7 linked regions of the Homo sapiens genome follow. The protein of the gene in region 3 interacts with the protein of the main gene of each other region in a pairwise test. Each region holds a gene or a part of one and is shown on either strand. Other genes may lie near its edges. The genes, in order: CEP57L1, SMYD3, PKN1, STMN3, SSX2IP, ZFP90 and ZNF488.

Evidence for each region.
Region 1: the proteins of PKN1 (region 3) and CEP57L1 interact in binary tests that used the Homo sapiens proteins (3 or more experiments, as listed by UniProt).
Region 2: the proteins of PKN1 (region 3) and SMYD3 interact in binary tests that used the Homo sapiens proteins (3 or more experiments, as listed by UniProt).
Region 4: the proteins of PKN1 (region 3) and STMN3 interact in binary tests that used the Homo sapiens proteins (3 or more experiments, as listed by UniProt).
Region 5: the proteins of PKN1 (region 3) and SSX2IP interact in binary tests that used the Homo sapiens proteins (3 or more experiments, as listed by UniProt).
Region 6: the proteins of PKN1 (region 3) and ZFP90 interact in binary tests that used the Homo sapiens proteins (3 or more experiments, as listed by UniProt).
Region 7: the proteins of PKN1 (region 3) and ZNF488 interact in binary tests that used the Homo sapiens proteins (3 or more experiments, as listed by UniProt).

What each region holds. Positions count from the first base shown.
Region 1 is NC_000006.12:109,102,007-109,105,506, reverse strand, and holds part of CEP57L1 (centrosomal protein CEP57L1), read right to left. Parts: intron 1-3,500. UniProt on the Homo sapiens protein: Centrosomal protein which may be required for microtubule attachment to centrosomes.
Region 2 is NC_000001.11:245,853,280-245,856,779, forward strand, and holds part of SMYD3 (histone-lysine N-methyltransferase SMYD3), read right to left. Parts: intron 1-3,500. UniProt on the Homo sapiens protein: Histone methyltransferase. Specifically methylates 'Lys-4' of histone H3, inducing di- and tri-methylation, but not monomethylation. Also methylates 'Lys-5' of histone H4.
Region 3 is NC_000019.10:14,457,306-14,460,805, reverse strand, and holds part of PKN1 (serine/threonine-protein kinase N1), read right to left. Parts: intron 2,776-3,500; coding exon 2,666-2,775; intron 2,575-2,665; coding exon 2,431-2,574; intron 1-2,430. UniProt on the Homo sapiens protein: PKC-related serine/threonine-protein kinase involved in various processes such as regulation of the intermediate filaments of the actin cytoskeleton, cell migration, tumor cell invasion and transcription regulation.
Region 4 is NC_000020.11:63,643,425-63,646,924, forward strand, and holds part of STMN3 (stathmin-3), read right to left. Parts: intron 886-3,500; coding exon 790-885; intron 508-789; coding exon 332-507; exon of another isoform or gene 235-331; intron 1-234. UniProt on the Homo sapiens protein: Exhibits microtubule-destabilizing activity, which is antagonized by STAT3.
Region 5 is NC_000001.11:84,655,962-84,659,461, forward strand, and holds part of SSX2IP (afadin- and alpha-actinin-binding protein), read right to left. Parts: intron 2,508-3,500; coding exon 2,357-2,507; intron 524-2,356; coding exon 387-523; intron 45-386; coding exon 1-44. UniProt on the Homo sapiens protein: Belongs to an adhesion system, which plays a role in the organization of homotypic, interneuronal and heterotypic cell-cell adherens junctions (AJs).
Region 6 is NC_000016.10:68,545,791-68,549,290, reverse strand, and holds part of ZFP90 (zinc finger protein 90 homolog), read right to left. Parts: intron 1-3,500.
Region 7 is NC_000010.11:47,377,794-47,381,293, forward strand, and holds part of ZNF488 (zinc finger protein 488), read right to left. Parts: intron 3,069-3,500; exon of another isoform or gene 1,715-3,068; intron 1-1,714. UniProt on the Homo sapiens protein: Transcriptional repressor. Plays a role in oligodendrocyte differentiation, together with OLIG2. Mediates Notch signaling-activated formation of oligodendrocyte precursors.

The sequences.
Region 1 (3,500 bases), on a different chromosome or scaffold from region 3:
TAAATAAACTTTTACATATGTGGGAATTTGGTATATGAAAAAGAGGGCATTTACATGGAGAAAGGATTGGCTATTCAATATTCACTATGCCAATATTCACTATACAGTGCTATCCACACGGTAAAATATAAACATATATCTCTACTCCATGCCAAACACAAAAATAAATTCTAGCTAGACTGAACATCTATACGTGAACAACAAACCTTTGTTTTAGAAGAAAATATAGAGTACGTTTCAGACTTTGGGTAAGAAGAGATTTCTTAAAACAAGACAATTTACAAATAAAAAAGAAAAAATGATAAAACTATATAAAAATTAAAATGTCTGTATAACAAAAAACATCATTGATGATATCTTTAAAAAAGAAACATATATAACATAAAAGATTAGTATCTGAAATACAGAAACAAGTTCTATCCTATAAATTATTAAGAAAAACACAAAGGTCAATTAACAAAGGAACAAAAGGTACAATGGAAGTTAAAAGACAAGAAAACACGAATAGCTAAAAGGACAAAAACGTTCTACTTCATTGATCAGGAAAATGCAAATTTAAACAATACAGAAATTATTTTACACCCATTAGATTGAAAAAAATTTTAAAAGAAGCCTATCAGGACCCAGTGCAGTGGCTCATGTCTGTAATCCTAGCACTTTGGGAGGCTGAGGTGGGAGGACTTCTTGAGCCCAGGAGTTCAAGATCAGCCTGGGCAATACTGTGAGACCCTGTCTCTACAAAAAAAAAATTTTTTAATTAGCTGGGTGTGGTGGCACACACATGTGTTCCCAGCTACTTGTAGGGCAGAGGTGGGAGGATCGTTTGAGCCCGGGAGGTTGAGGCTTGCAGTGGGCTGTGATTGTGCCACTGCACTCTGGTCTGGGCAACAGAGTGGGATTCTGTCTCACAAAACAAAACAAACAAACAAAAAACAAACAAAAAAACACGCCTATCAATATTAAGTTTTGTCAAGGATGTGGGGAAATGAAAATTCCCATGAACTGCCAGTGGGAGTGTAAACTGGTAAAACAAAACATAACTTGAAAAATGTGATCCTGTGTATATCCTATAACTCAGCAATTCCACTTCTCCGAATTTATGAGTGAACCCTAGAGAAAATGGCACATATCTGGACATATGTATAATGATGTTCACTGCTGCACTGATTGCAACAGAAAAAAATTTTTTTTTTAAATAAATATACATTAATAGGGACTGGATAAATAAGTTGTATCATATTCATACAATGAAACACTATACACCAGCTAAAATTTGAAAACAAGATCTACATTTAGCAACACAGATAAGCTCTGAAAATATATTGTTGAGTAAAACAGAAAGTAAGTTACAGATAGTAAGATATCTTCTATGTAACATTTTTTTAAAAGACAAAGACAATATATGACTGTGCCAAGAGCACTTTCACAACCTATGTGATATTTCATTTCATTGAAAAAAAAAAAAACAAAAACTAAAGCAAACTAGGTAAAATGTTAACATTTGTTCATTCCAAGGGGTAGTTTAAAAGGGTATTTATTTTGTTACTCTTATTTTTTGTTTGAAATATGTAATGCTTTTAAAAATGACATATAATTTTAATATCTTACCCCTATATATGTATATATTCATGTAAAATGTGGATAAGGAAAATAAGTAGAAAAATAAGAATAAAATCAGTAGTGAGACTGGTTTATAAAATTCATATTGTATGTTGCGTATATTGCTAGAGCTCGCTCACAAATCTTTCAAGAAGAGCAAAATGAAAATAGATTCAACAATTATTGGTTTTTAAAAATCTATCCATTAATATATGTCAGAAATACTAGAGATTTAGTCATTCAAAGCATACTATAGTAAATTTGGAGACACCAAAAACAGAAAAACTGGAGAAAATACTGAAGAGTAAACTTGATTTAAGTGGTTTACTCATTTATTCCTGAAAGATGGAACCAAAATAACATAGAAAAAAGGGGCATGGTATTCTGAGAATAGTATGTATGACAGTGTTTCAGAAAATATGTTTTTGAAGGGCTGAAAAGAATATCATTCAAATCAATCTTGTTAAGGAATTCAAATCGACCTTGTTAAGGAAAACTTAAAAATAAAATATACAGATTCAAATTAAGAGCCTTTATGATTCATTTGGGCAATACACATATACCCCACACATAAAAGTACACATATAGTACTTGGTTGACAAGACATTTTTCAACAAGCCAAAAGAAAAACTAAGGAAGCATTTAGAGGCAAAACTGCTTATGCTACTATACAGTAAATAATTAGTATAATTTCCTTTAAAAACTTAAGTTGAAGTCAGTTATCATAGAAAGAGATATTTTAAGTTTACATGGCTTCAGTGTTTCATTGTAGAGAAGGGTCAAACTATTGTGGAAAAATCACAGGTTGATTTTTGCAACCTTGTAAGACTAGGCAAAAAAGTAGCAAAAAAACAAAAACAAAAACCAGCAATGTAGACAAGTAACAAGGTAATTCAATTGGAGAATAATATTCTTAATTGTAGAAAGTCTTCCTAACAATTTTCACTTACAGCACTCAGCCAACTGCACATGCTGACAACAGATAACTAAAATGGAACTGTTAGTCCGGTTTCCTGATACATTCCAGATAAAGTTCTCCCTGGCCTCATCTTTAGGCTGACTTCAGGTCTCTCTCTCAAGGAACAGTTTTGAAGAATGGCACCAATATAGTTGTACAGATTCAGTATAATGGTCTTTAAAAAAAAGTTTTTCACCTTTTAATATTATTGATCAAAATAATAATTTCAGATCCAGCAGAAACTTTTTAATAAAAACATAAATCTAGGCACAGACCTTATACCTTTTACAAAAAAAAAACTAAAAAATGGATCATAAACCTATATGCAAAACACAAAGCTGTAAAAGTTCTGGAAGACAGGAGAAAATCTACATGACCCTGGGTATGGCAATGACTTTTTAGCTACAACACGAAAAGCATGATACATGAAAGCTGGACTTCACTAAAATTAAAAATTTCTGCTTTGCAAAAGACACTATTAAAGAATGAACAGACAAGCCACAGACTTGGAGAAAATATTTACAAAATGCAGGTCTGATATAGGACTTGTGTGTCCAAAATATACAAAGCACTCTTAAAACTCAATAGTAAGCTGAGCGTGGAGGTGCATGCCTGTAGTTCTAGCTACTTCGGAGGCTGAGGCAGGACTGCTTGAGCCAAGGGGTTTGAGGTTACAGTGATCTATGAAAGCAACACTGCACTCCAACCTGGGTGACCTAGGGAGACCCTGCCTCTAAAAAACAAAAACACTCAACAGTAATAATAATTTAAAAATGGACAAAAGATCTGAAAAGACACCTCACCAAACATGATACACAGGCAGCAAATAGGCGTATGAAAAGATGCTCAACATATGTCATTGGGGAATCACCAATTAAAACAATAATGAGATACCATTACATACCTATTAGAACAGCTAAAGTCCAAAACACTGATACCACCA
Region 2 (3,500 bases), on a different chromosome or scaffold from region 3:
CCAGCCTGCCCTCTAGGAATGAGCTTCGTTGTCAGAGACAATGACACAAGCGTCCTCAGAGAGCAAGCTAACAACATCTGAGCAACAAGGAGAGATGCGGGATTGGGAGAGGCAGACCCAAAGCAAGCGCTGGGTATGTGACGGCATCGAACGCGCGCTCAGGTCCTCCCACTGTAATACGCACCTGGGATGCGGGGTCAGGAAGGCAGGCCCAAAGCAAGCGCTGGGCGCGTGGCTGCACCAAACGTGCGCTCAGGTCTTCCCACTATAACATGTACCCGGCAAGCTCTGCAGACTCCTGTACCAGAATGTCACACTGACAAAAACCCATGAAAGAACAACTGGAGTTCTTCAGAAAAGCCTGCTTGAAAACAGTAGAAGGTACTGTTATGAGGAAATCTCATAGTTTATCAACCTATCTTCCAAACCTTCTCAAAAAAAGGAGAAAAAAAAAATCCCCCGCAAAATTAAAAACGAATGGGGCTGCTATGTAATTAACTGACAATCTCTCAGTTACAAACCCCTGATTTGTAACCATGGCAGGTACACAAACTACCAGCTGCATTATACTTCCACTCTCTCCACCTGCCCCCATTTTTTCTGACAACAAAGCACAGAAAACTATCTGAGCTGAAATCTCACTCTTATCAGCTTTCTTCTCCTTGATGGAGATTTCATAGCCCACCTCCCTTGCCTCTTTCTCTGATCACAACTTAAGTCTCTTCATCATTCTTGTTCTTCTGCCTTTTTCCCAGGTACGTCACAAAAGTGTCATTCCCACCAGCACAAAAATACTATTTATGGACAACAAAATTAATATCAACAAATCTTACCCTATAATGTGGGCTTTGATGAAAGAAGAGATGAAGGCCCTAATACGTTTTGAAATGGCTTTAGATCAGAAACAACGGAAGTCAACGTCATCTCTTCTCATATTTTCTTGAGGAAAGAGTGACATTTTAGTGTGTGTGGTGGGGGAGGTACAATTTGGAAATGGTTATCCAAATTTAAAATAAATATAACTTTCACTTTAAGAGCAGGGGGACCTAACTTTTGATGTACCAAGTTACCACTTAGGAATTTCTCATGTGGATTTACCCTATGGATTCAATTAATCATGGCACTGTTTGACACAGTACACATAAATGGAAACGACAGAGATTGATCTAAAAATTATGGCATATCCATGAGATGAAATACTATGTATCTGTTAAAAAGAATAAGGTAGCTAATCTGGAGCTAATCTAGACAGATGTCTACACTCTCTTGTAAAGTGAAAAAAGTTACAGAACATGGGCTAGGGAGTTATCCTTTTCTCTCTCTCTCTCTCTTTTTCCCGCACACTAAGGAGGACCTTTGGCTTGGCTTCCCTTCCTTTTCTCTAATCCCCACTCCTCCATACACCACCTCAGCAGGCATATTTAAAAGACCTATTGGAAATGAGTCTTTCCCCCAGCAAGACAAGCAGGAAAAACGCAGAAGTGCAGGAGAAAGTGGAAGAGCCCACGTGAACAGTTCTGAAGGGAAGAGAGTTGAGAGTAACTGGGAAAGCAGAATAAAAGGAATGGGGGAAGCAGGGCTTTAAAAAAACATTCTGTGTATTATGATGGAACCATTGTTCATGTTTTCTGGCGAAGGTTAGGATTACTGTTTACTTTCAATCCTCTGACACCATGCTAAGACGGAGGTCTATCTGGCTCTGGAATATATTCAGACCGGCCACTCTCACACGGAACATTTCCAGAAGGAAACTTTTAGCCATGTTTATCTTTAAGGAGTGGGACAACAGTTTGAAGATGAGGCTGATTTTTACCTTTCTGTCCTCTTAAATTGTCCTTCCCTACAAGCATATGTTAATCTCGCAACAGAAATGAACAGAACGGGCGAATGTCCTGAAAGTCCTCTTCAAAGCCGGAAACACCCTCTATATCTCCTTATCACTCTCTAGTTCCGAAAGAAAAGTCAAATTTAATTAATATTCGACGCACAAAAATTTTAAAACAATGTGCTCAATTTTGTATTTTTCTCTCCGTTTTTAGGGGCTGGGGGGGGAATTTATAGCCCATACAGTGGTGCTATCAAAGGCTGAGTAGACTTTCATGGGTTAGTCTGGAGACATCACCATAATCTGTAACCATCTTTAATAGGAAAATGCATCCCAAGTTCTGAACTACTAATTGGCGAATTAACATTAGACTAAGTTAAACTTTTAAATAAAATTTATGAAGTATTTTAAAATTATCTTCATTCTACTTCCTGTTTACAATGCTAAGGGACAGATGAGTTTCCATATTAGTCACATATATATGCCGATACTATCAGAAGACATACTATGGGCTAATACTAAACATTATACATTTTGTTGTATGTGATTTCTAACTTGTTTTATGAAACATGAAGGATGTAATGTTGAGTTGCGTCATAAAAACTGAGTAAAATCTATTGAGTAAAAATAAATGAGAGTAGCAAGAAGGGAGCTGAAGGCCATAATTTGGATTAAAATGGAATAGCAGCACTTTCTCCTCTAAGGTCAGCAATTAAAATTTAGCCAAGGTCAGGAGTGACAAAATCATCAAGAAAGACTTGACCTCCATCTAGTTGTTGCAAACAATATATTAACATTGTAAAACTGTTACAGCAGATGGCAATGCAATCATCCCTTGGTAACTCATGCCTAGCTAACTGTCTGTGTCCTTGGCTAAAGGTGAGCAAAAGGCCCACCTCCTGCGTCTGCAGGGAGCCGATGCGGGGGGCTGAGAGCACTCAGTGTGAATTCCCTCATGCACATGTGAGAGGTGAAAACCACTGCCAACTTCTCCATTCCTGCCTTTGTTCCAAAATTGCTAACAGGGTTGCAGGGTACCTGACCTATTTGCATACATTCCTTATTTTTACCTCTGCCTGAGCTAAAGGGGAAAAAGGCAAAGTATGACAACATCTAACCTGCCCATTTCTCTCAACTTTGTTGGTTCTGGTTTATTTATAGCCTTTTCCTCAACTACAGCTTTAAAAGCAAATGATTCGTACCTCACTCATGTGAAGTGGATCAATGCAGATTGGATTTCTTGAAATACCACCAAAAAGCAACTCAACACACGCCAGGGAAGAGAAACCAAGGGAGGCTTGGAAATTTGTCACCCAGCATAAGAACACAGCACACACTTAAAGAGATTGTGACCTGCCAAACACCATGTAAATATAACCAAACGTTTCCCAAACATAATGGACTGTATTCTGGTGGAGGACTTGGCCTCACTTACAAGAAAGGCCTCTTTGTTTAAAGTCAGTCAAACTGCCAGCTACTTAAGGTGTAAGTTAGTGCCTCAAAGAGGCCCTGGTAGATGTGGGGAAGAGAAGGTTGCAAAATACGTGCAGAACAGACACCCGTGTAGGTGTGTGGTCTTCTTTATGGATGTGGTGGACCCATGTAAAGTTTCTGTGCTTAAGAGTGGCCCGAGCAGGGCAGCCTGAGTGTCGAAAGGGAGGATGAGGCAGAAGAA
Region 3 (3,500 bases):
ATAGAGATAGATAAATGGATAGATGGATTAGATAAATAGATGATATAGATACCTAATATAGATGGATACATAGATAAGACAGATAATATAGGTGTATCTATCAATGGATAGAGGATGCATTGATAAGATGGCTGGGCCGGGCGCGGTGGCTCACGCCGGTAATCCCAGCACTTTGGGAGGCCAAGGCGGGCAGATCACGAGGTCAGGAGATGGAGACCATCCTGGCTAACACGGTGGGTGAAACCCCGTCTCTACTAAAAATACAAAAAATTATCCGGGCGTGGTAGCGGGTGCCTGTAGTCCCAGCTACTCGGGAGGCTGAGGCAGGAGAATGGCATGAACCCGGGAAGCAGAGGTTGCAGTGAGCCAAGATCGCACCACTGCACTCCAGCCTGGGAGACAGCGAGACTCCATCTCAAAAAAAAAAAAAAAAAAAAAAGATGGATGGATGAATGCATAGACAGACAAAATGGATGGATGGACACGTAGGTGGGTAAATAATAGATAATATGTGTGTGTATACATATATAGGTAATCTATCATATATATATGTAAAATGGGGTACACATATAGGTTAGCGGAAGATTAAAAGAGTTTTTTAGGATAATTTGGCTAAATGAGGGGTCAAGTGCCCCTTCTCTGTGCCCCAGTTTCCTCCTCTGTCAAATTTGAGTAATAACAGTCCCTCTTTTGTTGGTTGGTTGTGAGAATTAATGAGTTCACGTCGCCAAAGTACTCGCTACAGAGCCTGGCTTATACTATGAGAACTCAGCTAGAAATGTCATTTAGACCAGGGGTTCCCGGCCAGGGAGCACTTGACAGTGTCTGGAGACCTCTGGGCTGTCAAAACTCAGGGGGAGGTGGTGCTACTGACATCCTGTAAGCAGTGGGGAGAGGTGCTACATCCTCTAGTATGCAGGACAGCCCCACCACAGAGGATGATGTGGCCCCAGATGTCAACAGTGCCAAGGGTAGGCCACCTCAATTCAGACCTTCACCCTCACACAGCTGTGGAAGGAATCACTTTCTCTTGACTGTGGCTCTGGTAGCAATCACCACGATATGTTGCCAGGTTTTGTATCTCTTTCCTGGTTGGAAGAAATTTTATAATTTATTTCCTTTTTTCTTTAAACATTTCTAAATTTGGAAATCAGCTTCTTCTTCTTCTTTTTTTTTTTTTTTAAGTATCTTGCCTCAGAACAAAACCAATCCCAGCTAAGGTCCTATCACTGATGTGGCTAATTAGAAGTGCTTTTCTTCTTCTTCTTCTTCTTTTTTTTTTTTTTTTGAGACAAGAGTCTCACTCTGTTGCCCAGGCTGGAGTGCAATGGCGTGATCTCAGCTCACTGCAACCTCTGTCTCCTGGGTTCAAGCAATTCTCCTGCCTCAGCCTCCCAAGTAGCTGGGATTACAGGTACCCACTATCATGCCCAGCTAATTTTTGTATTTTTAATAGAGATGGGGTTTCACCATGTTGGCCAGGCTAGTCTGGAACTCCTGGCCTCAAGTGATCCACCTGCCTCAGCCTCCCAAAGTGCTGGGATTACAGGCGTGAGCCACCACACCTGGCCAAGGTGTACTTTTCTATCAAGGTTCAGAGACAGATCTAAAATGTATCTTCCCCTTCTAGAATACACGGGTCTAAAACATACCTGCCACTTCTGAAAGAGCCTGATCTAAAACTATCTTTCTGTATTAAGAGAAACCATATCTAAAACATATCTTATGCTTCTAAAAGAGCCTGATCTAAAATGTATCTTCCCCTTCTAGAACAAGCAGATCTTTTTTTTTTTTGTGAGACTCCTGGGCGACAGAGTCTCACTCTGTCGCCCAGGCTGGAGTGCAGTGGTGGGATCTCAGCTCACTGCAGCCTCCGCCTCCTGGGTTCAAGCGATTCTCCTGTCTCAGCCTCCCAAGTAGCTGGGACTAAAGGCATGTGCCACGACGCCCAGCTAATTTTGTACTTTTAGTTGAGACGCGGTTTTACCATGTTGCCCAGGCTGGTCTCCCTGACCTCAGGTGATCCTCCTGCCTCAGCCTTCCGAAGTGCTGGGATTACAGGCATGAGCCACCACGCCCAGCCTAGAACAGGCAGATCAAAAGCCTATCTTCCCTTTCTAGAAGAGCCTGATCTAAAACATATCTTTCCCTTCTAGAAAAAAGCAGACCTAAAACGTCTCTTCCCCTTCTGGAAGAGCCTGACCTAAAACGTATCTTCTCCTTCTAGAAAAGGCAGAGTTAAAACATATCTTCCGTTTCTAGAAGAGCTGGATCTAAAATCTATTTTCCTCTTCTAGAAAAGCCTGACTTAAAACTTATCTTCCCCTTCTGGAAGAGCCAGACCTAAAACATATTTTCCCCTTCTAGGAAACTGGGAATGGGGCAGTGAGGGAGAAGAAGCATTTTCTCAGGGTCAGGTGTGGGCTATACCTCAGCCACCAGGCAGCCCTGGGGTTCCATGTCCAGCTGCACCTCATGCCTCTCATTGTCCAAGAAATCCTCCAACTTCAGGAATTTGAGGGCACACAGGCCCCGCTGGTCCCGCCAGAACACAGCCAACTCCAGTTCCCGTGCCTGGAGGGAGAGGAAGAGGGCCATCACTCAGGGTGCCAGAGGCATGGAACCCCTCCTCCTCTAGGCCCTGCTGTCCTCCAACGCAGCTCACCCTTTCCAGCTCCAGAGTGAAGCTCTGGTCCCAGGCATTGGGGCCACATGGCTTCCAAGACGTCTGCCCCACCACTGTGTTATCCAGCTTAAGCACAGTGCTGACTTCACCTGAAATGGGAGAGAGGGCCCAGTCAGAAAATGCTGGCAGTAGCCAGACAAGGTTGCTCATGCCTGTAATCCCGGCACTTTAGGAGGTTGAGGCAGGCGATCACTTGAGGCCAGGAGTTCAAGACCAGCCTGGCCATCATAGCGAAACCCCGTCTCTACTAAAAATACAAAAAATTAGCTGGGCGTGGTGGCACGCGCCTGTAATGCCAGCTACTCGGGAGGCTGAGGAAGGAGAATCACTTGAACCCAGGAGGCAGAGGTTGTAGTGAGCCAAGATCGTGCTACTGCGCTCCAGCCTGCGTGACACAGCAAGACTCGGTCGAAAAGAGAGAAGAGAAGAGAAGAGAAAATAAAAACGGCCAGGCACAGTGGCTCATGCCTGTAATCTCAACACTTTCGGAGGCTGAGGCAGGTGGATCACCTGAGGTCAGAAGTTTGAGACCAGCCTGACCAACATGGTGAAACCCCATGTCTACTAAAAATAAAAAATTACCCAGGCGTGGTTGCACATGCCTGTAATCCCAGTTACTCGGGAGGCTGAGGCAGGAGAATCCCTTGAACCCAGGAGGCAGAGGTTGCAGTGAGCCGAGATCACGCCACTGCACTCCAGCCTGGGCAACAAGAGTGAAGCTCCATCTCAAAAAAAAAAAAAAAGAAAAAAAAAAAAGAAAAAGAAAGAAAATCCTGGCAGAAAGGGGCATGTCTATTATCTTTTTCTTTTTTTT
Region 4 (3,500 bases), on a different chromosome or scaffold from region 3:
GTGTGCACCACCACACCTGGCTAATTTTGTATTTTTAGTACAGATGGGGTTTCACCATGTTGGCCAGGCTGATCTTGAACTTCCAACCTCAAGTGATCTGCCTGCCTCAGCTTCCCAAAGTTCTGGGATTACAGGCGTGAGCCACCACACCCGGCCTCTCCCCATCCCATTCTTATCTCTCAGAAAGAGGCCCAGGGAGCCACAGCCCCTCCTGCTCCAGGCCAAGGCACTGACCAAGCCTGTCCGGGAGCACCCTGCTTCTTGCAGGCCCTGTCCCCGTGGGCCGCCTCCGTTGAAACTCCTGGGGGGTGGGGGATGGAGGACTCCTTGCCTTCCTCCGCTCCTCGGCTGCCTCCAGCCGCTTTTGCAGCTCCTCCAGGGAGGTGTCCTTCTTCTTGGGTGGGGAGGAGAGCATAGGGCTCTCTGGGGACAGGTCAGAAGGGGACTTGAGGATGACCTCGAAGCTCTGGCCTGAGGCCCGCTTGTCCAGCTGCTTCACCTCCATGTCTGCAGGGCAAGACCAGAGTAGAGCTTCAGAGGCCCGGCCAGGGCATGGCGTGGGCTGAGCGGGATGCTCCCAGCACACATCCAACCCCAGGGCTGGGCGAGAGGGGGTGGCTGCTCCCGCAGGAATCCCAGGCTTCAGCCCCCAGGATGGGCCCCTTCCCCCTAGAACCTCCCTCTCCAGAGGCAGCCAGGACGGGAGTTCAGAGAGACTGCCGGAGGCCGGGGGAAAAGGTGAGGTGGGCAGGCACCGCAGGGAAGGGCAGGCGGCAGCCAGGCACTCACCCCCGTACTGGTAGACGGTATTGGGGTGCGGCTGTGTGTAGAAGCAGGAGCAGATGAGCGACAGCACCGACAGCTCCTTCATCTTCTCCTTGTAGGCTGTGGGCACAAGGCTGGGCTGAGCAAGCACCACTGGGGCCTGCCCACCTGGGCCCCCGTTTTCCCTCCCCATGGCTGCCTCTATCATGTCTCTGTGAGACACGGAGCTGCCCAGCACGCTCTCTTGTGTGTCTCCACACCGCCGGCCCCTTCGTCTCTCCAGCTCTCTCGCTTCCAGACGTCGGCACTGTCTCCGTGGTGTGTCCCCTGCCTTCTGTCTCTCTCGCCCTCTGCCTCTCCCCGCTTTTCCTCTCTCTCGGCATTAATGTCTGTCTCATCTTCCACACTGACTTGTTTCTCCATCCTTCTCCTGCCTGCTGTGGTCTGAATGTTTCCATTACCCAAAACTCATGTGTTGAAATCGTAACCCCAAGGTGCCGGTGTGCGGAGGTGAGGCATTCGGAGGGAATTAGGCCATGAGGATAGAGCCCTCCTAAGTGGCCCCAGAGTGGGGCTTCAGAGAACTCCCTCACCTTCCATCATGTGAGGACACAGCCAGAAGACGCCACCCGTCTATGTACCAGGAGGCGAGACCTCTCCAGGCACCGACTCTGCCGGCACCTTGATCCTGGACTTTCTGGCCTCCAGAGCGATGGGAAATAAGTTCCTGTCGTCTATAAACCACTCAGTCTCAGGTACCTGCCCAGACTGACAAAGTGGCTACCCCTGCCTGTCTGGGTCTCTGTTTACCTTCTGTGTGTCTGACTCTGTCACTGTCATTGTATCTTTCTGTGTCTCTGGGGGTAGCCCCTGACTCTGTCTTTCTCCCTGAGTGCATCTTTCTGTGATTCCTTGTCACTGTGTGTCTTTCTGACTCTTACCTCCCTCTGTCCCGCTACTTCTCTCTCCCCTCCTCCTCCTTCCCACTCCTCGCCAGCTCAAGCAGGCAAGATTTACTCATGACGGGACCAGCACAGATGCAAACCCTCTGTGGGCAGGACTTTCTTGGGCTGTAAACCTGGATGAAGCCCTCAGACCCTCCTTTTTCCTTCCCAATGATTGTGTGGTCACCTTGAGATGAAACCAGGCCCTCTCCAGGCACATGCTCTCTGTCTATCTAGGGCTGGGCTTGGGCCACTGATGCCACCAAGGAGCAAGGGAGGGAAGCTGTCCGTTCAGCACCACAGCCAGCCCTCTTGCCCATTCAGGTCAATCAAGTGCCCACCAGCCAGTGTCCCTGCTGCCCAACCCAAACCAGAAGCAAGCCGGGCTCCTGTGGCCCTGTGCCCTGTCAGGGGAAGAGGAAGGCGCCTGCTGTCACAGTGAAAATAATTTAGCTCTTTTGGTCTATTCAGGGCGAACCTCATTCCTAAGCAGACACGCTGGCCCGGTTTCTCACTAGTGCTCGATAATCCTTTTGGCTGGGTGCAGTGGCTCATTTAACTGTAATCCCAGCACTTTGGGAGGCCAAGGCAGGTGGAACACCTGAGGTCAGGAGTTTGAGACCAGCCTGACCAACATGGTGAAACCCGATCTCTACTAAAAATATAAAAATTAGCCAGGCGTGGTGGCAGGCACCTGTAATCCTAGCTACTTGGGAGGCTGAGGCAGGAGAATCGCTTGAACCTGGGAGGCGGAGGTTGCAGTGAGCCGAGGTCGCGCCATCGCACTCCAGCCTGGGTGACAGTGTGAGACTCCGTCTCAAAACAGAAAGAAAAAGAGAGAGAGGAAGAAAGGAAGGAGGGAGGGAGGGAGGAAAAGAAGAAAGGAAAGGAAAGGAAGACAGACAAGGCAGAAGTAATCAAGCCTTTCATGGTGAGCTGGGTCTTCTGGTGACAGTGCAGAGAATGGTCTGTCCTGACTTAAATTTCCTGGTGACCTACACTTTTCTGGACAGAGCAGCACAGAGCCCAAGAGGGTGTAAGGAGGAGCAGAAAGGAATCCCAGGGTGGGCAGGCCCGTGCGAGAGCCTTTGGGGGAAGGAATGAGACTTTGAGCCGGGAAGCGAGGCAAAGCTACCTGTCTTGGTCATTGTCTTCAGGGAGGGAGATGGAGGGGGACCAGGTGGGGGAGCCTCACAGGGGACTTTGGTCTGACTTGTCAAGTTTTCTTTTTTTCTTTTTGAGATGGAGTCTTGCACTGTTGCCCAGGCTGCAGTGCAGTGGTGCGATCTCGGCTCACCGCAAGCTCCGCCTCCTGGGTTCACACCATTCTCCTGCCTCAGCCTCCCGAGTAGCTGGGACCACAGGCACCGCCACCACACCCAGCTAATTTTTTGTATTTTTAGTAGAGACGGGGTTTCACTATATTAGCCAGGATAGTCTCGATCTCCTGACCTCGTGATCCGCCCGCCTCGACCTCCCAAAGTGCTGGGATTACAGGTGTGAGCCACTGTGCCTGGCCTACTTTATTTTTTAGAAACAGGACTGTGCTCTGTTGCCCATGCTGGAGTGTAGGGTGCAGCTGTGCGGTTCACTGCAGCCTTGAACTTCTGGGCTTGACGGATCCTGCCATCTTAGCAGCTGGGACTACAGGTGCATGCCAGCACACCAGTTTTCTTTTTTTTTTTATCTCTGCTCACTGCAATTCCGCCTCCTGGGTTCTAGCGATTCTCCTGCCTCAGCCTCCCAAGTAGCAGGGATTACACGCACATGCCACCACACCCGGCTAATTTT
Region 5 (3,500 bases), on a different chromosome or scaffold from region 3:
AATAGTGAAGTGGTATCATCATCATATGCAGTAGCGAGCTGCTGCTATTAAAATTTAAAACATAGTAAGTTCCTGAGGGACCTTGCGACACTCCAACGAGTTGAAATGAAAGCAAGGGAAGGCCAGTCAAACTTCAGGGCAGGAATAGAAATTATTAAGAATCAAAAAGTCAAATGAGAATTCTCATTTCCCGAAACCTACTACCCCAACTAGCAAAGTATGGACTATTTAAGGAGTGGTACACAATGTATCTGTTAGCAGGGAACACAGACTAGAAATCTGTCAAATACCAGGGCCTTATGAAATAAAGGAATACAAATCTGGTAAGGTTCAGCACAATTCTGGCTTTTCATGGAGAACAGCTTTAAAAGGTAATTCATATTCACCTGTAAAAGCTGTTGCTGAGTTTTAATCATTTCTTTACACTGCTGAATTTCTAACTCGAGTTTTTCAGTTTCTTGTTCATGGTCTTGTCGTGAGATTACATCTTCATCATTAAAACCTTCCAGGTGTACCTTTGAAACTAAGACAAAATCAGTAAGTTGACATAGGTCTTATAGCCACCACTTAGTTTACAGTGTTTTGCACATATCTTTAAAACAAGGGCTCTCAGAACTTTTATCTTTCTAGAATTTTATAGGTTTTCTAAAAAGTAGTTACGTCCTTTGACTTTTTAAAATTTCATAAGCTATAACAAAATTAAATTTATATTATTTTAACATTATAAAAAATGTTTAAGCAAAGCAACTACAGGAGTTCATGACGACAATTACACATTTGTGCAATTTTAAGACTAAATGATATGCTTACAAACAGAGCTCTATTGCCAACAATTTGTAATCCATATTTATTCATGATTATGTCCTAATTAAAAACAGACAAAATGGCCATATTCAGAGAAGAGAAAAATAAAATCATGTTTTTGTTGACACTGCTTCAAAGATCAATGAAGTGTCACAAATCTTGCTCTCAAATATTAAATTCAACAAATACGAAGTCCAAACATACTTGCTATTTGATAATAAACAGCATTGACTCAAATGAACAAAATCTCATGTAGATTCATTTTGGTGCTGTAATAATAATTTTGCTGATTGCTCTTTACTAATACTTAACACAATGGCACTGAGTTCATATTTTGACAATTTAAATTTTTCTTTAAATAGGCTTCATTTACTGAGCAGAAATCTTCATTTTCCTAGTTTAAAAGCATTCAAACTTTACCAAGCAGAAAATATTAAGAATATATTCATCAATGTAGAGCTATGTATAAGGATAATAGTTAAGTGAAAAAAGCACACTAAAGAAAAATATAGGTAATATTCAATTTTTAAAATTTAAAAAAAAGTAAGTATCTTTCAAATCCATAGAGGAAAGTATAGAAAAATATGCACCAAACTGTTAAGTGTTATATGTATGGAATAGAGACCAGGATATTCTACTTTATATACTTCCAAATTAATATTTTGCATTAAACATCTATTATTTTAAAAATAATTTTAAGTGAATTACTAGGAACATAGTAATCTGCAAGCATCTAGAAATAAGCAAAATGTTCCTATCTATACTACGATAAATATTTCTTGATTTTTGAGAGTCAGTAAAAGAGACTCAGTTTTCTCTTTTTGGGGGGGAACAGGTGGTGTTTGGTTACATGAATAAGATCTTTAGTGGTGATTTCTGAGATTTTGGTGCACCCATCACCCAAGCAGTGTACACTACACCCAATGTGTAGTCTTTTATCCCAACTCAGTTATCTTTATTTGATTGTATACTGCATCCAGAGCAGATGGATCCATGATGTCCTCTTTTCAAACATTCACTCTGAGACCAAAGTGTATTTTTCTCAGTGAGGTTCAAACCTCACATCTAAATGTATGTAAAATGTCGGCTGTGCACAGTGGCTCACACGTGTAATCCAGACACTCTGGGGAGGCCAAGGCAGGTGAATCACTTGAGGCCAGGAGTTCAAGATAAGCCTGGCCAACACAGCAAAACCCCATCTCTACTAAAAACACACCAAAAAATTAGCTGGCTATGATGTGCGCCTATAGTCCTAGCTGCTCAGCAGGCTGAGGCAGGAGAAATAACTTGAACCTGGGAGGCGGAGGTTACAGTGAGCCGAGATGGCACCACTACACTCTAGCCTGGGTGACCGAGCAAGGTTCTGTCTCAAAAAGTAAAATAAAATAAAATAAAATGAAAAAATAAATGTATGCAAAATCTTGCTTTCAAACCACCAAACTGAAGTATAGTACTTTAGCTCTGAGCCTATAATGCGGCTTTCTAAGTGACTAAAAATCAACACCTTACCAAATGTCACAACTCACTTTACATGCATAGAAGCAGTGGTTACCTTGGTTATCAAGCTTTTCTACATGACTTTTCAAAATTCTCCACTGTTTTCTGATGCTGTTTGTAAGCTGCTCTCTCACAGTTTCACAGGAAAGGTCCCACATACTCTCTCTGCTTAGTTCCCCGGCATCTTCTTCAACATCGGAAATAACCTACAAGCGGAGAGAGATGAAGAGGAAAGGCTAGTACCTTACAATGGCTTTAGATGCTCAGGCAAGTAGTCTTCAGTTTGATTACCAGAGGAAGCCACATCAAAATCATTTCTGTGCTGTGTCTTATGCATATATGGCCCAGTATTTAAATGTCTTGAGAAAAAAAATGAGACTCCTAAATTCAGCTCTCTCTAAACCTGAATTTGAATCCAAATACAGTTAATGACAAGAGTCATGAAGCTGTCTGAGAAGGAGATATCACTACCTGTCTAATGTGTTGGATGTTTTCACGTTATTTAACCCTCAGCTCATTACAATGTGGGAAAACCGAGGTTTAGAGAAGCAGCATTACAACTAAGAGGCAGAACTGATATTTGACATTAGATCAACTTGTTTCTAATCCTAGGCTGCTTAAAGAAATGCACTTGTGAAATAATCTCTGAAGTATTTAATAAAAGCAACTGTTAATTCTATTTTCCTCATATACTTTTTTATATAACGGGAGATACTTTTCTTTGTATTCTGCCAAACATGAAATCATAAAGAAGTAGCAAACTTTACTGATATATGATCACACAGAATCAAAGCAGGATAAAGAACATGGGGAAACAATACTAAAAGGGATATATGTCATAATAACCCACATCTACATAAAGTAGTTCTAATTTGTCATTAATATTCAGGAAGGCAGAGAGATATACTTCACTAATTTGAACAATAAAAATCTTGCTGGGGAAAAAAGAAAGATAAAAGATGAAAAGAAAGAAGGGCTGATTCGACTGCTCGCACATGGAGATCAGCAGGATGAGGGAGCAACTGAGTCTGAAGAACTCTATCAGTAGTTGAGGTCAGCAATGGGCTAGCAGAGGTCAGGGTCTCTGAGGCGGAGCAGACAGGGGAATGGCCCAGGATCCGGCTCATGGTGATTCTAGCCCCTGCCAATACTCAAAAGCTACTTGCCAGTAACTCTTCCAAGGAAGCACAGCTTCTCTT
Region 6 (3,500 bases), on a different chromosome or scaffold from region 3:
CTTGCCCAGCATCTTTTAAAAGCTCCTCAGGTGGTTCATTATCAAAGAGCAACAGCTCAGATTTCTTGAACACTCGCTGCTAGGCAAACACTAAACTCAGTCATTTACGTGCACTCTCACCACATTTCCTCACTGAAGCCTTGTCACCACCCCAGAGGAAGCAGGCACCACTTCCTGACTGGTTCTGAAGCATGACCCTGGTTAAGAACCACTGCCTGGCATAGAGCAAGCATTCCAAACACGTCTGCTGAGTGAATGGATACAGAATCTGGGTAATTCTCAATGCAGGAAAATGAGGAGTTGTTTCGAGGATTAAAAAAAAACACATGGGTTAGTGAATTAAATTCTTGGATTATAAAAAACAGAGGCAAACAGAAAAACGATGGCATTAACAGCCAAATCTAAGGCTGGTTCCTCTTAAGCACCAGCCAAATAGAAAAACCTCTGATAAATCGAGTAAGAAGAAATTTTTAAAAGATGAACTTAAAGATAGGAGGATAAGGCTGGGCACAGTGGCTCATGCCTGTAATCCCAGCACTTTGGGAGGCCGAGGCGGGCGAATCACCTGAGGTCGGGAGTTCGAGACCAGCCTGACCAACATGGAGAAACCCCATCTCTACTAAAAATACAAAATTAGCCGGGTGTGGAGGTGCATGCCTGTAATCCCAGCTACTCAGGAGGCTGAGGCAGGAGAATTGCTTGAACCTGGGAAGCGGAGGTAGCGGTGAGCCGAGATTGCGCCATTGCACTCCAGCCTGGGCAATAAGAGCGAAACTCCGTCTCAATAAAAAAAAAAAAAAAAAAAAAAAAAAAAAAGGAGGATAAACAGAACAGTGAAATATACACACTAGTGTGTTAAGAAATGCAAAAAATCTTAACAAAAAACTTTTAAATTCTAAACTACCAATGTTTACACAAAAAAGCAGAAACCTTTATAATTGAGGAGGAAATAGAGAAAATTGTTGCCAAAACATCTTGTCTATAAAAATCCTGAGTCTAAATGTTTTATAGGTAAATTCTTTCAAAAGACAGAAAAAGGTGAAAAGCAATCTGAATGTTTCTACAAATTAAGGATAAGCATGACACCAAAACCCATCCAAGAGAGTGCTTTCTCTCTGGTGGCTATTTCCCTTAGTAATACAGATATTAAAAAATGATCAACTGGGCCGGACACGGTGGCTCACACCTGTAATCCCAGCACTTTGGGAGGCTGAGGCAGGTGGATCACTTGAGGTCAGAAGTTCGAGACCAGCCTGACCGACATGGTGAAACTCCATCTCTACTAAAAAATCAAAACTAGCCAGACATGGTGGTACACGCCTGTAATCCCAGCTACTTGGAAGACTGAGGCAGGAGAATCGCTTGAACCCAGGAGGCAGAGGTTGCAGTGAGCTGAGATTGCCCTCTAGCCTGGGCAACAAGAGCAAAACTCTGTCTCAAAAAAAAAAAAAAAAGAGAGATCAACTGTATTTTGAAAAACTTATGTATTACAACCAAGTGGAATTTTATCCCAGCATTATGTATAATAGTAAAAATTTCAGAAACAACCTAAATGTTCTCTGAGAAATGGCTAAATAAATTTTGGTACATTCATACAAAGCAATATAATATAGTCATTAAAACTGATTTTAAACAACAACAAAAATAATCCTCATAAAATTTATATGAAATTTAAAATACATTGTAATTAAAAATGTTTAAGGGGAAAAATATGCATAAGGAGAAAAGAAAATTCACCAAAACAAATACAGAGGTCCTAAGGAAGAGGGATCATAAATGACTTTTTTCTATTAAAAAGTCTAGATTATTAAGCAAGTAATACCCAGAATATATAGAGAACTCCTAAAAATCCAACAAAAAACAATTCAAAAATGTGCCAGGAACTTGAATAAACATTTCTCCAAAGAAGATACACAAAGATGTTCAAGAACACTAATTATTAGAGAAATGCAAATCAAAACTACAATGAGATATCACCTCACACTGGTTAGGATGGCTACTATCAAGATAAAACAGAAAATAACAAGGGTTGGGGGGATGTGGATAAATTAGAACCCTTTGTGCACTGTTAAGAATGTAAAAAGATACAGCTGCTATGGAAACAGTATGGTGGTTCCGGAAAAAAATTACCGTATGACCCCGCAATTTCTCTCTGGGTATATAACCAAAAGAATTTAAAGTCAGGTCTCAAAGAGATATCTGTACCCCCACGTTCAATAGTTCAATGCCTCATGTTCATGTTCAGTGCCATAGCAGCATTATTCACAATAGCTAAACATGTAAACAAAGCAAGTGTCTATCAATGGATGAATGGATAAGCAAAATGGAATTGTATTTAGCCTTAGAAAGGCTTTTATTTTAAAGCACTGTATTCAGCCTTTAAAAGAAAGTTCTGATATATGCTACGACTTAGATGAATCTTGAAGACATTATAATAAGTGAAATAAGCCAGCCACAAAAAGATATACTGTGTGATTTTGGCCAGACGTGGTGGCTCACGCCTCTAATCCCAGCACTTTGGGAGGCTGAGGTGGGCAGATCACTTGAGGTCTGGAGTTCGAGACCAGCCTGGCCAACATGATGAATCCCTGGCTCTACTAAAAACACAAAAATTAGCTGGGCGTGGTGGCGCATGCCTGTAGTCCCAGTTCTCAGGAGGCTGAGACAGAACCGCCTGAACCCAGGAGGCTGAGGATGCAGTGAGCCGAGATTGCACCACTCACTCCAGCCTGGGTGACAGAGCAAGAATCCGTCTTAATAAAAAACAAAACAAAACAAAACATACTGTTTGATTCCACTTATATGAGATAGAGTAGTTAAAATCATAGAGATAGAAAGCAGAATGGTAGTTGCACGGGCTGAAAGAAGAAAGAATGAAAAGTTATTGTTTAATGGATTGTAGAGTTTTCAGTTTTACAAGATGAAGAATTTTGAAGATGGGTAGTGGTGATGGCTGCATTACATATGAATGTATTTAATACCACTGAACTGTACACTTAAGATTGTCTTATGTGTATTTTATCAAAATTTATAAAAACTGACAAAGATTATATCAAAGGTAAAAAGTCTCTAATATTATATATGCTCACATACTTTAATAAAATATACTTTGTTTTGAGTCAGAGTCTTGCTGTGTCGCCCAGGCTGGAGTGCAATGGTGCAATCTCAGCTCACTGCAACCTCCACCTCCCGGGCTCAAGCAATTCTCATGTCTCAGCCTCCCAAGTAGCTGGGATTACAGGCGTGTGCCTCCACACCTGGCTAATTTTTGTATTTTTAGTAGAGATGGGGTTTCACTATGTGGCCCAGGTTGGTTTCGAACTCCTGGGCTCATGCAATTCGCCTGTCTCGGCCTCCCAAAGTGCTGGGATTACAGGTGTGAGCCACTGTACCCGGCCATAAGATATACTTTAACAAAAGTAATACAACACGGAAAAGTAAGGAAAAGAATCTTATTTTTGAAACAGTTATTTTTTGAGACGGAGTCTCGCTCAGTCACC
Region 7 (3,500 bases), on a different chromosome or scaffold from region 3:
GAGCACACAGGGCTTCTGCCTGCCAGCTCTGACTTAATTCGACTGTGTTTGCACCCTGGTTGAGGGCAGTTTTCCTTCCTTGCTGGTTGCCATACTCATTTTTTCTCCTGACCCTCAGGAGTGCCAGGCCACTTCAGGCACCTGGGGACAGGGGATCTGTAGGCATAGGTGCACAGAAGGACAAAAGTTGGAGCAATGCACATGCAGGCTTGGCAGGATGGGTCTGGCTGTGCCTGGCCCCCACCCCCACACTAAGGGGCTGCCACCCCACCACCTGGCCCTGCCCCTAGAGAGAGCATGTGTAACCTCATCTCCACTCGCCAGAAGTGCTCACTCTTGGTTCTCCCCACACATGGATCCACTCGCTTCTCTGCTCCCCTGGCAGAGCTTCGCGAACTGCCTGCCTGTGCCAAACTGGACCTCCATGGATGGACCAGCTTTCAGCCTCACCCTGGAAGTGCCCACGGTGTGGAAGGGAAGACATGCACTGACCACATGTAAAGGTGGCACCCATGGGGAGGTGGTATCAGCCCTGCTGGGATGCCTTCATCCCTACCCGCTCTCACCAGCCCCACCCTCAAGTTCTGGAAACTAGAACTCAAGCTCTTCAAGTGCCCCCTCCACTGGTGAGAGGTACTGGCAGAACCAGACTCCACTCAGCATTCCAGAATTCTCATCCTTAGAAAATATTTATCCCAGGGCTCAGGGAGAATCTAGGAGTGGATGAGAGCCTCCATGGCTTGCTATGCATAAATATAGCCTGGGCCAAATCAGCTTCTTCCTCTCCCTGCTTCCCGCCCAGCCATGAAAGGATGTACCTGCGTCCAGCCACTTCCTGCAGGAGCTCTCAAGGAGATGAGACAGAGAGCCCAACCCTCTCATGGAGTGAAAGCATGGGATAAATCAGAGAGAAAGCAAGAAAAGTGAACATAAAACCTCACGTTCCCTTTTGTCACAAGCTTTTGACTAGCTCCTGTGGAACATCGCCACCCCGCCTTGCCCTGCAGACCACCCCGTGTGACTTCATGAAGAGGACGCAAACCACGTGGTGCAGCAGGCTCCACACCACTCCTGATGCCCTTTTTGAGTGGATTCCTCAGAGGGGGTGCCTGACGTCAGAGGTGAATGTCGGCCAGTGTCTCCCAAAGAGGCAGAGGCAGAAACATCACTCCTCTCTGTGTTCCCGAGCAAAGCACTCAACCTCTCTGAGCCTCAGGTTTCCATCTGTAAAATGCGCTCTGGCTAAGCTGTCTCTCCAGGCCATCCCAGACCTACTCATGTATGACTAATTGGAAGAAACCAGTTCTCCTTTACAGCAGGATGGAACATTTGCTATCAGGATGCTTCAGGGTATCAGAATAGAAGTTACCATTTATCGGCTACGTAAGTATCTACATGACAAACAATAGTATTAACAAATGAAATAAGGCACCTTGTTCATTTCATTTTCATAAAAACCATATGAGGGAAGCTATGTGTCTCAATTCAGATGCACTTATCTCCAATCTGCCAAATGCCATCCCGATAAACTCAGGGCAGCATCTCAGCTTTCAGAGACCACTGTGGATCCTGACACCGCCAACTGCTGAATTAAATATCCCACCCAGCTTCACACTCCATCAATGTTAACATCCAGATCTTAATAAGAAGGAGCAGGAGGATGGAGAAAATGAGGAGATGAAACTAGGAACTAGCTGGGGACCTTTCATCCCACCTGGGACCCTGGAGGGTCACCGCTGTCGCATGCATCAGCACTGCATGGAGTAAGGTCAGTAAGGCCAGGGCACAGCACGTCCTCCAGAACCCCAACAGAACAAGGGCCAGACCGAAGACCTGCAAGGTGGAAAATGACGTGAGGCTGGCATGACTTGTCCCCAGGGAGCCCCCGCCAGCTCCTCATGCACGTCTCTCCTTTGCCCACAGACTCACAGCCTTCTTCTTAGTCTAGGATCTTTCCCAGGGCCAACATCAGATTTGAGTCTCTTCCACCTCCGGGCTTCATTTCCAACACCTCTCAGACAGCACCTCAGATGGGGGTATCTCATTCCAGGTCATGCTATACCCTGGCCAGGGCATTCTCTTGGTCAGAGCCCTGAGCACACACACTGCAGCCCACGCTACGTGGCTCCTGCTTTCCTCCGGGAACCTGCCTGCGCCCTTTGCACCTGCAGATCCTCCTCTGTCCAGACCGCTGTGGGCACAGTGGAGCTGTGCCTTCCTCCCCTTCACAGACACCAGCTGCCCTAGACGGCGATGGATCTATGAAGCCCTTGTTCTCCTTGCTCCGAACATGATATGAAAAGATGCTTTGTGGTCGTCAGCTCTCCTCAGTAGGTTCAGTTCACACCCGGGCTCTCACCCCCTGACACTCTTTACTGGCCCTCGTCACTCTGTCATTGTGAGTGTCCTGGGAAGGGCTCCTCTTGTTCTCCTTGGCTCTTGTCCCTCTGACCTCAGCAAGACATCTTTCTGAGCCACACAGATGTCTCTCATTGCCACCCCATGTCTTTCCTACTTGAAAAAAACAGATTTAATTCCAGGACTCACCCACCACTTTCAGAGCCCTCAGATCACGTGAATCACAGAAATCAAGTGATGATCTTTGAAACTTTCTGAAACTGAGCTCCCCAAGTCTACAGGGGATCTAACCATGCCTGGCCTTCCCCACCAACACAGAGCACATCTCCCAAAGGCTTCCAACCAACCTGGGCCATCAACCAGGGTCCCCTGTTGCCCAACTCAGCAAGTGCTGCATCCTGGGAGATGAAGCCTCGCCCACCCCACAGTGTTAAGAGCTTGTGGTTCTCGGTTTATCACCCATCCTCTGGTGACTGCACACTGATCATTCACTCATCTGGGAACCACTGGCCACATTCTCCCACATTATCACCTTGACCAGGTTGTCTCAGGTAACCTTCGAGCCTTCCATCCAAATAGATGTTAAGTGCACGGGCTCCACGGTTGGAGGCCAGCTCTGCTGTATCCAACCTGTGACCTTGGGCAAGGCGTGGGTCCCCTCCAGGCCTGTTTTCTGATCTATAAAGAGGGTCACCTTGGTGTTTTCTTCACTGGGTTGTGGGAAAGATTAGAAGGATTAATATAGAGAAAGTGCTAAGGAACCTGGCTCAGTAAACATTAGGGGTATCACTTCTTATCGCACTGAGTGCAAAGGGACAGAGTCCACTCCATGGCAGCCTTCCCATTACTCCTGAGCTCTCAGGGACCAGTGCATAACAGTGTTTAATAAATGACCAAACAGCCTGGGCATTTTTCTCCTTCCTGCTCCACCTACAGAAGAAAGAACTCTTGGCAAACATCTGGATAACCTCTTTTTCCTGGGATGTCTGAAGTCACTCCCTAACCCAAGCCAACTGGCCAGCCTCAAGCTGTTCTGAGCTGCAGGTCAGGCACCAGATCTTATTCAGAGACACCATGTACCCCCACCCGCTCCCCCCAAGCAGTGCTTTGCTGCATCTGCTTTTCTCTTCAGTTAAAACACA